2 separate regions of the Homo sapiens genome follow, and region 2 is linked to region 1. The links come from fine-mapping of genetic effects on gene expression. Tissue or cell type: whole blood. Region 1 holds a variant in brackets; the other region holds the start of a gene. All regions are shown on one strand. Distances are between the middles of the regions.

Region 1 (8,222 bases):
ATAAGGTAACTCGCAACTGGCAAGTTGGTGCTGGCTGTTGGCTGGTAGTTCATTCAGGGCTCAGGGCCCAGGACCAAGAGTCGTCACCATGGCTTGCTTCAGCCTCCTTGAGGCATGATGGCTGGGTCCCAAGAGAAGAGAAATAGAAACTTCCAGTCTCTTAAGGCATTGGTCTGGAAGCTGGGACGGCATCACTTTTGCCATATTCTGTTGGTAACGCAGTTACATCGCCAGATTAAAGGGTAAAGAGATACAAATTCCCACTGCTCAGTGCAAGGAATATCAGTGATTTTAGGGGGCCCTGTTTTAAAACCCCTACAAGGTGCTAAGCGTGGATTTCTGGGGCTTTCTTGTTTTTTGTTTTTTTCTATGTGTTTTTTTTTTTTTTTTTGGTGGTGGGGTCAGGGAGGGCTTATAGGGTATGTTAAATCAGCAGAATAATTTTATTTATTTATTTGGAGATGGAGTTTCACTCTTTTGCCTAAGCTGGAGTGAAGTAGCGTGATCAGAGATGGAGTTTCACTCTTTTGCCTAAGCTGGAGTGAAGTAGCGTGATCTCGGCTCACTGCAACCTCCGCCCCGCTGGTTCAAGCAATTCCCCTGCCTTAGCCTCCCAAGTAGCTGGGATTATAGGCACCCACCGCCACGCCCGGCTAATTTTTATATTTTTAGTAGACATGGGGTTTCGCCATGGCTAGTCTGGAATTCCTGACCTCAGGTGATCCACCCACCTTGGCCTCCCAAAGTGGTGGGATTACAGGTATGAGCCACTGTGCCTGACCTATAATGTTTTTTAAAAATCAGTTTTGGAAAGTTTGCAGACATTAACTTTTCAAATGTAGCTTCCATTTGATTCTTTTTCTACTCTGCCTCTGATCCTCCACTTATGTATGTATGCTAGATCTTTTATTAGATAGTCTGTGTCTCTTATGTACTCTACTATATTTTGTATTCTTCTGTCTCTCCATGCTTTATTCTGTTTACTCTTTCCTGATTATATTTTTTAATTTTGTAATTTCCATTTGATGCTTTTTTGATCATTCAAAACTCTTCACCAAAATTCTAAATTTCCTTTTTTAACCTCTCGAATGTTATCACAGTTACTTTAAAGTCTATTTTGGATAACTTAAATATTTACAGTCCCCTCACAGATATGTTTCTTTTGTATATTGTTTCTGTTGGTTTTCTTTCATGTCTTATCTCCACATATGCCTGGTGAGTTTTGATTATGTGTTGGTCATTGTATTTGCAAGTATGCTCGTAGAAATAATCTGGAATGGCCGGGCGCAGTGGCTCATGCCTGTAATCCCAGCACTTTGGGAGGCTGAGGCAGGTGGATCACGAGATCAGGAGATCAAGACCATCCTGGCTAACATGGTGAAACCCCATCTCTACTAAAAATACAAAAAATTAGCTGAGCATGGTGGCACGTTCCTGTAATCCCTGCTACTCGGGAGGCTGAGGCAGGAGAATCACTTGAACCAGGAGGCAGAGGTTGCAGTGAGCCGAGATCACGCCACTGCACTCCAGCCTGGGTGACAGAGCGAGACTCCGTCTCAAAAAAAAAAAAAAAAAAAAAAAAAGAAATAATCTAGAGCCTAGTTTGATGTTTCCTTACAAAGAATGAATTTATTTTTGCTTCTCCCATTGCAACTAGGATAACCTCAGTCTAGTTTCTGGAACTGAAATCACTTGAGGCTGAACTGTGGTCTCTGTGAGAGCGTGTCTGTGTATGGCTCACCCTTATTCCTAGGCTACGTAGTTCTTTAGGACCCTAACCCAAAGTAAGAGATGTTCATCAGGGCTCTCCTCTTGGCAGACGCCTGGGCTCCAGTCCCTGTGTCCTGAGCCCCATGAGGCTGTTACTGGTGCTGCTCGTCTGCCCATCCTCTCCAGTAACAGCCACCTGAACACTGCAATTCCTGGGTTTCCATCATTCCTTCCAGCCTGGTGAGTCATCAGTGTCTTTTGAGGTATCCAGTGCCTGCCAGCAGATGTTTTTTAATAATTTGTCCAGCATTTCTGGCTGTCCTCAGTAGGTGGTCTGTTTCACATTCCCTAGTCTGCTGTTAATGGAAAGTGGAAGTTCTGAGAGAGAATCATCGTTCCCGTCAGCATTCAAATGCCTGATTACACTTTCCCCATTCGCTATCCTTTCCTTTATTTGCTCCTCACCACAGCAAAACTCCTCAAAAATATCTATCTTTGCAATCTTCAGATTCTCACATTGTGTCCTTAAACCCACTTTAATCAGGCCTTGGTTCCCTCCATTCCACTAAAAGTAATGTTGTCAAGGTCGTGCATGCCTCCGTGATGCTAATTCCAGTGATGAGTTTTCAGTTGTCATTCTCTGACATATCGGCAACACTTGATGTGGAGTACCCTGATGTTGAGAGGCTGGTGAGATGAAGGAAAAACCCAGCCAAGGGCAATGAGGAATGGCTTCCTTCCGCCTCCTCCTTCCCTATCTTTGTTGTGGTTTTTGTTGTTTCTGTAACACTGATTACGTTATAGTTTATTTAATGTACTTCCTTATTCTATGTTTTTACTTTAGTCATTTTGTTGATCTCCTCCATAATAACATAGGCTCGGGCCAAGCACAGTGGCTCACGCCTGTAATCCCAGCACTTTGGGAGACCAAGATGGGTGGATCACTTGAGGTGAGGAGTTCGAGACCAGCCTGGCCAACATGGCGAAACCCTGTGCCTACTAAAAATACAAAAATTAGCTGGGCGTGGTAGCAAGCGCCTGTAATCCCAGCTACTAGGGAGGCTGAAGCAGGAGAATTGCAGGAGAATCACTTGAACCCAGGGGGCAGAGGTTGCAGTGAGCTGAGATCGCGCCACTGCACTCCAGCCTGGGTAACAGAGTGAGACTCTGTCTCAAAAAAAAAAAAAAAAAAAAGGCTTCAGGAGGGCAGAGCATTTTATGCAATTGTTCATTAATTGACCCCTCCATTTGGCACAGATCACATGCCCAGTAGTTAACTGTTAATCAACGCACTCTCTGTGGAACAACAGGCTGGTCCCGTTGAGCCAACACTCTCTGGGCACTGCCTTCACTAGACTCTGGCTGGCTGCTGCGCTTGTAGAGGTATGCAAGACAAAACCTTTTGGTATGTTAAAAGCCCTGGTCAGAACTTTAAGTAACCATCACTGACATATAATGGTTATGGTTTTGAAAGTGCTTTTATAGTGGTTTTTCATCTGTCCTCACAGCACCTCTGGGAGGTAGGTAGGACAGGTACAGTTAGTCTCATGTTTCAAATGGGGCTCAGAGAGGGAAAAGGATTTCCCAAGATCACACAGCACCTTAGTAGCAAAACTTGGACTCAACCTCAACACTTAAAAATGAACAAAGCTGGCCGGGCGCAGTGGCTCATGCCTGTAATCCTAGCACTTTGGGAGGCCCAGGCAGGCAGGTCACCTGAGGCCAGGAGTTTAAGATCAGCCTGGCCAACATGACAAAACTCTGTCTCTTCTAAAAATACAAAAAATTAGCCGGGCATGGTGGCGGGTGCCTGTAATCCCAGCTACTCAGGAGGCTGAGGCAGGAGAATCACTTGAACCTGGGAGATGGAGGCTGCAGTGAGCCGAGATCGTGCCATTGTACTCCAGCCTGGGCAACAAGAATGAAACTCCATCTCAAAAAAAAAAAAAAGAAAAGAAAAGAAAAAGAAAAGTTTCCCTTTTTTTAAATATCTCATTTTAATGACTGCATAATAGTTTATTACATAGTTATACCATAATTTATATAATATTTTGTTGCTGTACATTTAGGTTAAACAATACTTACTTAGTTCCTACTATGAAGAGGGGCCAAGTACTCGAGGCTGGAGCTCTCACATGTGGCAATGAAATTAGAAAGTGGATATGGCAGGGCTGTGGTAAAATAAAATATAAAAATAATAAATGATATTACCAAAGAAAAGGAAAGTTTTTCAAAATAAAGGAAAATCTAGACAAGCATAGTGGCTCACACCTGTAATCCCAGTACTTTTGGAGGCTGAGGCAGGAGGAACACTTGAGGCCAGGAGTTCAAGACCAGCCTGGGCAACATAGCAAGACCCCCTGTCAACAAAAATAAAAAAAAATTAGGCCAGGCACAGTGGCTCACGGTGGCTAGTGCCTGAAATCCTAGCACTTTGAGAGGCTGAGGGGGGTGGATTGCCTGAGCTCAGGAGTTCGAGACCAGCCTGGGCAACATGGCCAAACCCCATCTCTACTAAAAACACAAAAAATTAGCCAGGTGTGGCAGCACACGCCTTTAATCCCAGCTACTCTGGAGACTGAGGTAGGAGAATTGCTTGAACCCGGGAGGTGAAGGTCGCAGTGAGGTGAGATTACAACACTGCACTCCAGCCTGGGTGACAAAATGAGACTCTATCTCAAAAAAAAAAAAAATTAGCTGGGCATGGTGGTGCATGCCTGTAATCCCAGCTACTCAGGAACTAAGGTAGGAGGATCCCTTCAGCCCAGGAATTCGAAGATGCAGTGAGTCATGATCACACCACCGCACCCCAGCCTGGGTTACAGAGCAAGAC[C/T]TTGTCTCTAAAAAACAAAGAAAGTCTAACCTAAACGCCATTATGTCATTTACATGTGTATAGGGGTGTGTGTGTGTGTGTGTGTGTGTGTGTGTGTGTGTGTGTGTGTGTGTGTTTGCTTGGGAGGGGAGTCGGGCTGGAGCTGGCCAGGCCGCAGCCTGGGGACCTTCTGATTCCAGCAGGGATGTGGGCCGAGGGTCCCGCCTTACTCATTTCGGGTCTTGCTCCTCTGTCCTGGCTCTACAGACTCTTCCAGCTGGAGTTGGAGGCTGACGCCCTAGTGAATTTCCATCAGTATTCTTCCCAGCTGCTACCCTTCTATGAGAGCTCCCCTCAGGTCCTGCACACTGAGGTCCTGCAGCACCTGACCGACCTCATCCGTAACCACCCCAGCTGGTCAGTGGCCCACCTGGCTGTGGAGCTAGGGATCCGCGAGTGCTTCCATCACAGCCGTATCATCAGGTGAGCAAGGGAACAAGACCATTTGGACAACGTGTGTGTACCTGCTTGTGTGGGCAGTGGGGGCCGCAGGCCTCGGTTCCCCTCCATAGTTTGACTTAAAAAGGAGCAGGGCCTGGCATGGTCGCTCACTAACGCAGTCCCAGCACTTTGGGAGGCTGAGGAGGGAGGATCACTTGAGACTAGGAGTTCAAGACCAGCCTGGCAAAATAGCAAGACCTTGTCTCTACGAAAAAATTAAAAAATTAGCATGTGTCTATACTCCTAGCTACTTGGGATGCTGAGGCAGGAGGATTGCTTGAGCCCAGGAGTTAGAGTTTACAGTGAGCTATGATTGCACCACTGCACTTCAGCCTGGGTGACAGAATGAGACCTTGTCTCTAGGAAAAAAAAAAAAAAAAAAAAAAAGGTGCTGCGTTGCTACCAGATTAAAATGTAAGAAGGACAATGTAATGTTTCCAGAGTCCGGAGTGCTCACCAGGTGCCAGGTCTGTGGGAGCTGATTTCTACCCACCATGAAATTGAATTTTCCCAACCCCCACAAGGTATCGTCATTTTATTTTACTTTATTTTATTTTATTTTATTTTATTTTATTTTATTTTATTTTATGTTACGTTATGTTATTTTATTTTGAGACGGAGTCTTATTCTGTCACCCAGGCTGGAGTGCAGTGGCGCGATCTTGGCTCACTGCACCCTCTGCCTCCTGGGTTCAGGTGATTCTCCTGCCTCAGCCTCCGGAATAGCTGGGATTACAGTAATGTGCCATCATGCCCGGGTAATTTTTTTTTTTTTTTTTTTTTTTTTTGAGACGGAGTCTCGCTCTGTCGCCCAGGCTGGAGTGCAGTGGCGCGATCTCGGCTCACTGCAAGCTCCGCCTCCCGGGTTCACGCCATTCTCCTGCCTCAGCCTCCCGCGTAGCTGGGACTACAGGCGCCCGCCACCACGCCCGGCTAATTTTTTTGTGTTTTTTAGTAGAGACGGGGTTTCACCATGTTGGCCAGGTTGGTCTCGAACTCCTAACCTCAGGTGATCTGCCCTCCTTGGCCTCCCAAAGTGCCGGGATTACAGGCGTGAGCCACCATGCCCGGCCCAGGTATCATCATTCTAGAGAGAGCTAACAGGACTTGTGCAGGTCACTCAGCCAGAGAGGGTGAAAGAGGGGCTTGGATCCTTGGTGTCTGCCCAGGCTGCTCTTCTGGAAGCTGAAGGCCTCCTTTTGTGAATCCATTCAGCCAGCAGATGGAGCAGCTGTTGCCCCTGGTGAGGGCACTGTCCCCACCCTTGCACAGGGCACCAGTTGGCCATCTTGTGCAGAGGTAGCCACACCTCCTCTGAGTCTCTATCCTAGATAGCTCAGTTAAGCTCCCAGGCCCAGAACTCAAAACCTCACTGCTGGCCGGGCGTGGTGGCTCACACCTGTAATCCCAGCACTTTGTGAGGCCGAGGCGGGTGTATCACTTGAGGTCAGGAGTTTGAGACCAGCCTGGCCAACGTGGTGAAACCCCGTCTCTACTAAAAATACAAAAAATTAGCAAGGCGTGGTGGCGCACGCCTGTAATCCCAGCTACTCGGGAGGCTGAGGCAGGAGAATTGCTTGAACCCAGAGGCGGAGGTTGCAGTGAGCCGAGATTGTGTCACTGCATTACAGCCTGGGCAACAAGAGTGAAACTCCACCTCAAAAAAACAAAACAAAACAAAAACCCTCACTGCACTTTAGTTTCCAGGCGTGCTTTTGGACAGCACTGTCTCATCTCACCATCACTCTGTCCATTTCCTGGGGCAGGCACAGCAGCTTGTGTCGATAAGGATATTGACGCCCAGAAAGGTTAAGTGAATTGCCTGAGGCTAGTGAGATATCCGTGTTCTGTGACCCTTTCCTGTGCCACCACCCTGCCCACTTCCTGCTGGTGTGGCCCTGGGGCCCATCTCTTGTACGAGTGAGCAAACTGAACAGAAACCTGATACAGGTCACATCAGATATAATTACATTCAAATCAGCCCAACTAGCTGAGTGGCGGGAATGCTCTTGAGCTCAAATAAACCAGAAAGTCCGAGTTTCCGAGTGCACTTCCCTGCATGTGCACTTAGGTCCCCCTGCCACCTTGTACCACACCTGCTCACCTCTGCTCACCCTGGCCCTCTCCTGCAGCTGTGCCAATTGCGCGGAGAACGAGGAGGGCTGCACACCCCTGCACCTGGCCTGCCGCAAGGGTGATGGGGAGATCCTGGTGGAGCTGGTGCAGTACTGCCACACTCAGATGGATGTCACCGACTACAAGGGAGAGACCGTCTTCCATTATGCTGTCCAGGGTGACAATTCTCAGGTGCTGCAGGTGAGCAGGGGGAGGGGCAGGGTGACTGGTACTGATACCTCCCGGTGTCCACGGTTCCCTTTGGGCCCCTAGGCTCAGGTGTCACTCTCAGGCCTCTCACTGTCCCCCATTGGTCCTTGAGGCCTGAGCTCCTTCATGGAGGGTGCAGACCCCTCCCTGGCTCTTCCCTCCCAGCCCTTTTCCAGGAGCCACGTCCTCAGTCTCTTTGCTTGATAAACCTGGGGACGGCCTCCAACCCAGCAAAATAAACCCCAAAAAAGGCCCAGCTCCAGTCAGTTAGTTCAGTTCCACTTTTCCTGAGCACAAACTGTGAGCCAGATGCCTGCCTGGAGGGGCTCGTGGGCCAGCGGGACCTGGGCTTAACCTTTTGCAAGCTTGTCCAATCTGTGGCCCTGCAGGCTGCATGCAGCCCAGGACGGCTTTGAATGTGGCCCAACACAAATTCACAAACTTTCTTAAAACATTATGAGATCCATGCATGGACCTTTTTTTTAGATCAGCTGTTGTTAGCGTTCATGTATTTTATGTGTGACCCAAGACAATTCTTCTGATGTGGCCCAGGGAGGCCAAAATATTGGACAACCCTATTTTACAGGAATTCAAACCAAGCAAACCAAACTGTCTCCAGTTCCTGTAGGCATTTGTGCCAGAGGCCCTCCTGTTAACGTTTTTGATTACCTGGGCAAAAGATGTGATTTTTTAATTGTGGGCAAGCAGATGGGGTGATACTATTAAATAGCTATTTCATATATTAGATTGAACAGAAAAGGCAGGATGTTGGATTATGTTTTATTGTCTAGAATTAGAAAATTCTTCTAAAGATCATGTTCTCTCTGCCTTGGCATCAGAATGCAACTACGTTATACCAGAAAATGTGGATTCCT
Region 2 (8,000 bases), 36 kb after region 1:
ATCCAGCAAATCGGCAGCAGAGCTTGTTCGGAAGCAAATAAGAGAGGCAGCGGCCGGGCGCAGCGGCTCACGCCTGTAATCCCAGCACTTTGGGAGGCCGAGGCAAGTGGATCATGAGGTCAGGAGATCGAGACCATCCTGGCTAACACGGTGAAACCCTGTCTCTACTAAAAATACAAAAAAATTAGCCAGGCGGGCATAGTGGCAGGAGCCTGTAGTCCCAGCTACTCGGGATGCTGAGGCAGGAGAATGGTGTGAACCCAGGAGGCGGAGCTTGCAGTGAGCCGAGATCGCGCCACTGCACTCCAGACTGGGAGACAGAGCGAGACTCCGTCTCAAAAAAAAAAAAAAAAAGGCAGCACCCAGGGCTCAGGTTCAAGCCTTAGCCCCTACTTCCCTACCACGTGGCCCCTGCAGCTGCTTCCCGGCCTGAGCTTCGCTGAGAGCCCTCATTTGCAAACTGGGTGATCAGTGCCCTCTCCACAGACTGGCTGGAGATTAAATGAAGTAATGATGCAAATACCTGGCAAATCACCAACACCAAGGAACACCGTCTGCCTTTCCTCCCCTGGCCACGACTTGACTTGGGCCAGCATCAGATGGGGTGGGCGGGATCCTTCTTGCAGCTGGTGTATGTGTGGTCCTGTTGGTACACAGATGCTGTCCTGAGCAGATGGCATGTGATGCCCGCACCAGCCGTTCTGGGGTCACGTGCAAGAGGCTGGCTGGAAATCATGCCAGGCATGCTCTTGCCACCAGAGACCTCTTGCCCTGTTCTCATGTGCCCCAGAGCCCAGTCTTGGGCCTCCCCTTGACGCTCCCCTTCGTGCCCCCTACCTGTGGAAGGTCTCTTCTGACTGCCCCTGTCCTGTTCCCAACAGGGTCAGGCCAACAAGGTGAAGAAACTCTCCATCGTTGTCTCCCTGGGGACAGGGAGGTCCCCACAAGTGCCTGTGACCTGTGTGGATGTCTTCCGTCCCAGCAACCCCTGGGAGCTGGCCAAGACTGTTTTTGGGGCCAAGGAACTGGGCAAGATGGTGGTGGACTGTGTGAGTGTGGGCCCCTCCCCCAGGCCACTTCCCTCAGGGTCTGTAGCCCAGGTCGATGGCTTCCCCTCATCCTGTGGGGCCTTTGGTGTTGGAGGAGACAGCAGGGCTCTGTCCATCGCCTTTAGCCAGCTGGAGGGAGAGAGAGTCCACAGTTCAGAGTCTCAGTGCGGGGCAGGGACCCTCAGTGACCACCAGCAGGGGGGTTTTCAAACGCTTTTTAGCTGCGGATCCCTTTCTGCAAACATAGCGCAGTGTAGAAGCCCAGAATGGACAAAGGCTCCAGAGCGGGCTGGGCGCTCACCCTGTAATCCCAGCACTTTGGGAGGCCAAGGCAGGCGGACCACTTGAGCACAGCAGTTTGAGACCAGCCTGAGCAATATAATGAGACTTTGTCTCTACCAAAAAATTAAAAACTAGCTGGACATGGTGGTGTGTGCCTGTGGTCCCAGCTACTCAGGAGGCTGAGGTGGGAGGATTGCTTAAGCCCAAGAGGCAGAGGCTGCAGTGAGCTGTGATCATGCCACTGCACTCCAGCCTGAGCAACAGAAGGAGACCTTGTCTCAAAAAGAAAGAAAGAAAGAGAGAGAGAGAGAGAGAGGAGGGAGGGAGGGAAACTTCAGGGAGAGGGGACATGGAGGCCTGTCGACTCAGCCGCTACCCTTTCCCCCACTCATCATCCCTGAAAGGGCACTGCTGAGACCTCTGCCCCTCTGATTGCACAGCTGGGACAGTCCCTGCAGTCCCAGGAAGGGGTTTTGCCCGAGCCGCTCTGCTGCTGTGTGGCTCAGCCTGACTCGAAAGAGCCTGGGGCTCCCCAGGCTGGGGCTCCGAGAGTGCAGGGCAGGGCCGGGCGGGGTGCGGGCCGGGCGGGGTGTGGGCCCGGCACTCACCAAGGCTGCTTCTCACCAGTGCACGGATCCAGACGGGCGGGCTGTGGACCGGGCACGGGCCTGGTGCGAGATGGTCGGCATCCAGTACTTCAGGTGAGGGCTCAGCCGCCCCAGCCCTTGGCCCCGTGCCCTGGCGTGGTCGGACTCACCGACCTTCCCCTCCCAGCCCTAGTGTGGACTTTCCCTTCCCCAAGGGTCTGCTCTGTTCCCCAAGCCCACCCTGGTCCTAGCTGGCGTCCCCTGCCCAGCCTGAGCATCCTAGGGTGACCCCCTCCTCCCTGGCCCGAACAGATTGAACCCCCAGCTGGGGACGGACATCATGCTGGATGAGGTCAGTGACACAGTGCTGGTCAACGCCCTCTGGGAGACCGAGGTCTACATCTATGAGCACCGCGAGGAGTTCCAGAAGCTCATCCAGCTGCTGCTCTCACCCTGAGGGTCCCCAGCCTCTCACCGGCCCCAGCTGACCTCGTCCATTCAGCCCCTGCCAGGCCAAGCCCAGCCACTGCCCTCCCGGGCAGATCTGGGCCCAGGCACCTCTGAGTCCATAGACCAGGCCTGGGAGAATGCCAAGCTGCCTGCCCGAGGCTGGTCCTGAAGGCCTGTCTCCCACTAACCCCGCCTTCCAGCACTTTCTGTCATTCCAGGCTGGGAAAGTCTAGAGCCCCCTTTGGCCCCTTTCCCTGACTGTCAAGGACAACTGACTCCCCCATCAGCTCAAACATTAAGGGTACCCGGGCACAACCGTACCCCTGCCCCCAGCCCCAGCCTCCCTGAGGGCCTGCCGGGCTGCCTCTGCCCCAGCCCCCAGCAAGGGCACTCCCAGGCTTCCTGGTGGGTGCAGCCCACTCCCTCTGCCCTCTGCTCCGTTCCCTGGGGGCTGGGACTAAAGAAATGGGTGTCCCCCACCCCATCAGCTGGGAAAGCCCAGGCCGCAGGAGTGGGATGCCCGTTGGACTTTGCCCCTCACACTGGCCCAGCCCCTCACACTGCCCCACCCCGAGAACCCTCAGCTCTCAAAGGTCACTCCTGGGAGTTTCTTCTTCCCAATGGAAGTGGCTTAAGAGCCAAAACTGAAATAAATCATTTGGATTCAAGTTCACCTGTGTTGTGTGTGCAGTGGTGTGAGATCCACCTGTTCCCCTGACCCCCGGCTCCCCTCGGCCTTGACCCTTGGCCTTGACCGGACTTTTCCTTTGTACCCGGACACTCTGTTTTCCAGGATCCCTGGGCAGGGACACCTCCTCTTTCCTCTAGGCCTCCCCTAAACCGGCCCTTAGGGTATGCAGAGGCAGCTGCCAGGCCCACATACCCCCGGCAGGCCCAAGGAGGGCCACAATCTTCAACTTCATCTTGGAGGACCAGGGAGAGCCCCATTTGTCACCCAGAGAGGCCGGGGACTCCGCGTGGACAGGCAGCGCGTGTGCAGGGCCGAGGTCTGCCCAGGGCTGGGCAACTCCAGCGTTTGTGCTGCTCCTGCTCCGGCAAGTGGAGGAGCTGGGCGGGCCAGAGCGGCTGTGGGAGCCAAGCTCAGAGGGCGTGGCCCCACTGTGAGCCGCAGGCCTGAGGACAGTGAGAAGTAAAGCGGCGTTCCCCTCCAGGGGCTGCTGCTGCTGGGTCTGGCAGAGAGAGTCCTGGGGGAGGGCATCGGGCAGCGCCCGCCCAGTAAGGTGGGCAATGCCTGGTATAGGCAGGTGGGAGGGCGGGGCCCCCCAGGGTTGGGGTCCTTGAGGAGGGGGTGACCCAGGAGGGGGCTCATCCACATGGGCACTTGTATCAGCCCACAGCTCCAAGGGGTGAATAATTGAAGGGCAGGTCACACGAGCCTGCCCGGCACAGGATGCCTTCCCTGCCGGATCTGGTTACGCCCCAGATCACATTCTGACATCCCGAGTTGGTGAATAATTAAGCTGCCACTCCTCTGAGGCAGGCCTCCATCTCCAGGTCCCTCTCCGAGGCTTCCTCGCTGCCAGCTGAGTCGTGGGCACCTGAGGGACTACCTACCACTGCTCCCGGCTGTGCCATCGCCACCAGCTCCCAGCCTCCTGCTCAGACCCGGGACAGCCCCTCCATGGCCCCCGAGATGGACCAGTTCTACAGGTCCACCATGGCCATCTACAAGGTGAGCACATGGGTGGCCAAGCCAGGCCTGAGCCCCTCCTCCCAGGGCACAGAAATCAGGCCCGCTCTGGAGGACGGAGGGCCAGCCGGGGCTACAGATGTCCTGGAAAGGGAAGCCTGGAGCCAGGCTGGGCCAGGGGTGGGTACGGGGGTAAGGATCCCCGAGAGCACTCAGCCATACAGCGGGAACCCCCAACTCCCAGATGCTGGACAAGGCAGGAGGGAGCCCAAGGCCCAGGGTGGGGAGAGTTGAGTCTGGATGAGAAGGGCCTGGCTGCCCGGCCTGGGAATAAAGAAAGACCCTCCCTCTCTCTCTCTGTCTCTCCCTCTCTCTCTCTCTCTCTCTCTCTCTCTCCCTCTCTCTCTCCCTCTCTCTGTCTCTCTCTCTCTCTGTCTCTCTCTCTCTCTGTCTCTCTCTCTCTCTCTGTCTCTCCCTGTCTCTGTCTCTCTCATTTCTGAGCCCCTCAGACTTCCTACTTCACCCCCGGGGGGTTGTTGCAGCCGCCACAGACATTTATTGAGCGCCTCCTGTGTGCAGGACCCTTTCACCTGGAGGCCTCACACCACCCACCTGTGAGGTGGAAAATGACCACCCTGCTTGATAGATGAGAAAACTGAGACCAAAGAGGTTAAACAGCTCATTCAAGGTCACGGAGGGAGGAAGAGGTGCTGCTGGGATTTGAACCGAGACCCAAGTCCAAGTCCAGGCCCAAGTCCAGGCCCGTCTTCACCATCCGGGGAGCTCTCTGCCCGGCCCCAGCCCGAGGAGGCCCACACTAATCCAGCCACAGCCTTGCCCATGGGGGGCTGTTCTCGGAGGAGGGCGAGAGCTGCCCTTGCCCCGGGGGTGACTGTTGGCAGCCCCAGGCGTGTAGCCCGGCAAGGCCTGGACACAGGGCAGGGCTGAGCCGTGCCCAGTGGGGACCACAGCAGGCGGGCCAGCTTCTGCCCAGCGGGAGGAGGAGAACCTTCCAGGTGCACCATCTCGGGAGGCACCTCGGTCCCGCCAGAGCAGACGTAAGCGGGAGCTGGCTGTGAGGGGACCACAGCTTAGAACAGGACCCCAAAAGATGGGCTCTGAGGTCCCTGCAGCCAAGAGCCAGGATTCTGGGTGAGCCTAGGTTTGTAGATGGGCCCCCCAAAGTCTGGGGCTTCTCACTGGGCTGGGGGTGCCCTGTCCCTGACGCCTGGTGACTTGACTCCATCCGTGGTTCCTTCTCGCTCCCCCATCTCTACACCTTTTTCCTCCCCTGACCCTGGGGTCCAGAGCATCATGGAGCAGTTTAACCCCGCCCTGGAGAACCTGGTGTACCTGGGCAACAACTACCTGCGTGCCTTCCACGGTGAGTGCCTGCCCGGGCCACCGAGCCCCAGCCCTGGGCCTCTGCTGTTCCCACCCACCCAGGCCCCTCCCAGATTCTCTGCATCCCACACCTGTTCATCCTCAACCCTACACCCTCCTACCCACCACCCTCACCCTCACACCTCTGCAGCCAGAGAGGCCTTATGCACCCCCACTCTCCTGTGCCCACGCACCCCAGTCCACACCCAGCACCCCTCATTGCCCCCTCCTTCAGGTGCCTCCAGACACTCCCATGATGCAGTACCAGGCCCTGCAGGCCCACACAGCCCCAGGGCAGCCCCTGACAGTGCATACATTTCTAGGCGTCACCTGGATGCCACCAGCTGAACCCACCCCTATACTCAGTCCCACCTCTGCACCCAGGCTCACACAGCAGCTGGCTTCCTCACTTCAACTGGCCACCACCCACACACCCTGCAGCTGGCCTTGACATTCACTCGGTCCCCGTGCAAACCCTTGTACCCGTCCGCTGTGGCCGCTCATACCTGCCAATAGCACCCCACTACCCACCAGTGCTGATCAACCCTGAACCTCAGGGCCTCCCATCCCCCTGCTTCTTAGATGCTTTCCACGCCACCTCCCTGCCCCCAGCCCTCACCTTATGCCCCTGCACCTGAGTTTCACAGCTCAACTGGTCACACCCTCCTCAGGGGCACACACAGATGCCCACACCCCACCCAGGACAGACACAGTCCCCTCCAGATGAAAAGAGCCTCCAGAAGGGTGGGGCAGAGGCAGGGCTGGACCAGACCTGTCCCTTCTGGTCCACAGCTCTGTCCGAGGCGGCCGAGGTCTACTTCAGTGCCATCCAGAAGATTGGGGAGCGTGCCCTGCAGAGCCCCACCTCACAGATTCTGGGTGAGGCTCCCCCTCCACAGCAGACCCCATTCTTGGGCCCTCCTTTTGCACCCTTGCCCTTCCAGGATGTCCCGAGTCCCTGACACAGGCCTTTCAGCCCAGGGCCCAGAGCCAGACTCTTGTTCTGGGGCCCAGGCTCCCCGCCACCACTCCCTGCCGGGCTGCTCCCAGGCTGGGACACACATGGCCTGGCTCCCAGAGAACCATATGGGAAGTTCCCGGACTTTGGTCCCAAAATCCAGTCTCGGGCAGGCCCTCTGTTGGCTTTCAGCGGAAGAGGGTGGTGGGTGGGCGGGGCAGGCTGCCACACACCAAAGCCACAGCTGCATCCATGCCTCCAGGGGAGATCTTGGTGCAGATGTCTGACACCCAGCGGCACTTGAACTCTGACCTGGAGGTGGTGGTGAGTATCAGGCCCCAGGGCCTGGAGGGGTCACTCGAGGAAAGTGGGCTATGTTCCAAGGAGAGGGCCCAGCCTACCAGATGCCCTTCCCAGGGAGGATGACCGTGGCTGCCCTTCCCAGCACCCGGCTCTGTGGGGCACGGTTCCCTGCAATAGTCGTTCAAGCCTCTAGCAGCCCTAGGAGGCTGGTGGCATTTCTGCCTCCATTTTATAGAGGAAGAAACTGAGTCTCAAAGAGCTAGTCATTGCCTGAGATGCCAGAGTGAATGGAGGCCCAAGGAAGAGAAAGGTCCTTTCACTGCAGCCCTCCTCACTGCAGCCTCCCAGGGAGCAGCCACATGGACCTGACCATGTCACTCCCAGGAGCAGAACCGTTCCACGGCCCCACTGCCCGTAGAACTGAACACAGGCTTCTCAGTGAGGGGTCCCTGGCTCTGTCGATCCAGCAGCTTCTCCTGACACCCCCAACACAGCCCAGCCCCCCGGAAGAGTGGGCCCTCTGCTGGTGTCCCCGCTGCGGGGCTGCTGTCCTGCTGTCCTCTCAGCCTAGAGCCACCGGTCCCTCCCCCTGCCGTCCAGTTGGGAAGCAGCTGTCCCCTCCTTCCCAAAGCCTCCTCTGACTCCCTGGGGCAAGTCCAGTCACCCCTCCCCCTGGACTCCAACAGATGATTCTGTCCGTTCTTAGCTCGTGGTGGGTTCAAAGCCCAGCTTCACCAGTGACTAGTTTTGTGACCTTGGACTCTATGCCTCCACTTACCTATCTGAGGAATGGAGAGAATCATAATAACTGCCTCCCAGGGTTCTTGAGAGGATGACGTGAATTAATAAGCATAAACCGTTTGCCCTGGCCCCTACTTACTGCCCCTGGATACCTTAGCTATGATAACCAGAAGTTAACTCACCTGCCCCTATCCCTCCCAAGACTGGGAGCGCCGCAGAGCCTTCCTTCCTCTCCGTAGCTCCAGGGCCTTCCGCCAAGCAGGGCTTCAGTGACACAGGGGAAAGAAAAGAGCTGAGGGAGTCAGCTTGGCTAGATGGAGAGAAGAGAGGGCTTTCCAAGGGAGCATGGCAGCGGGCTGCGCACAGCCATGAGCGGGCAGCAGGCAGGCATGAGCCAGGGCTTGGGCGCAGGGGCTGAGTGGGAGAGGTGGGGTGGGGCCTGGTGGTGAGGCAAGTGGGAAGGTTCGGAAGGAAATTTTAACTAATTGTTCTCCCTCCAATGTGTGAAGGGGAGCCCCTGGAAGTCAGGGTGCTCTTTGGGGGATACCATAAAATACTAGTCAGTTGGGCATGGGGAACAATCTTTTTTTTTTTTT

What was found. PIP is the estimated chance that this variant, and not a neighbour inherited with it, causes the effect.
Region 2: it holds the start of BAIAP2L2, and the variant in region 1 is fine-mapped to the expression of BAIAP2L2 in whole blood (INTERVAL, PIP 0.97).

What each region holds. Positions count from the first base shown.
Region 1 is chr22:38,142,221-38,150,442 of GRCh38, reverse strand. PLA2G6 (phospholipase A2 group VI) reads left to right here. Exons shown (of 17, transcript NM_003560.4): 3 at 4,790-5,005; 4 at 7,155-7,338. Among named protein-coding and RNA genes, the nearest start is that of PLA2G6, 35 kb to the left of the region's middle. RefSeq lists an enhancer at 7,194-7,694. The variant C/T (reference allele first, on the strand shown) is at 4,544.
Region 2 is chr22:38,106,536-38,114,535 of GRCh38, reverse strand. It overlaps BAIAP2L2 (BAR/IMD domain containing adaptor protein 2 like 2), which reads left to right and starts at 3,852. Exons shown (of 14, transcript NM_025045.6): 1 at 3,852-4,061; 2 at 5,328-5,403; 3 at 6,195-6,281; 4 at 6,623-6,684. The coding sequence starts at 4,011. It overlaps PLA2G6 (phospholipase A2 group VI), which reads left to right. Exons shown (of 17, transcript NM_003560.4): 15 at 882-1,049; 16 at 1,959-2,032; 17 at 2,231-3,041. The coding sequence ends at 2,375. RefSeq lists an enhancer at 1-22.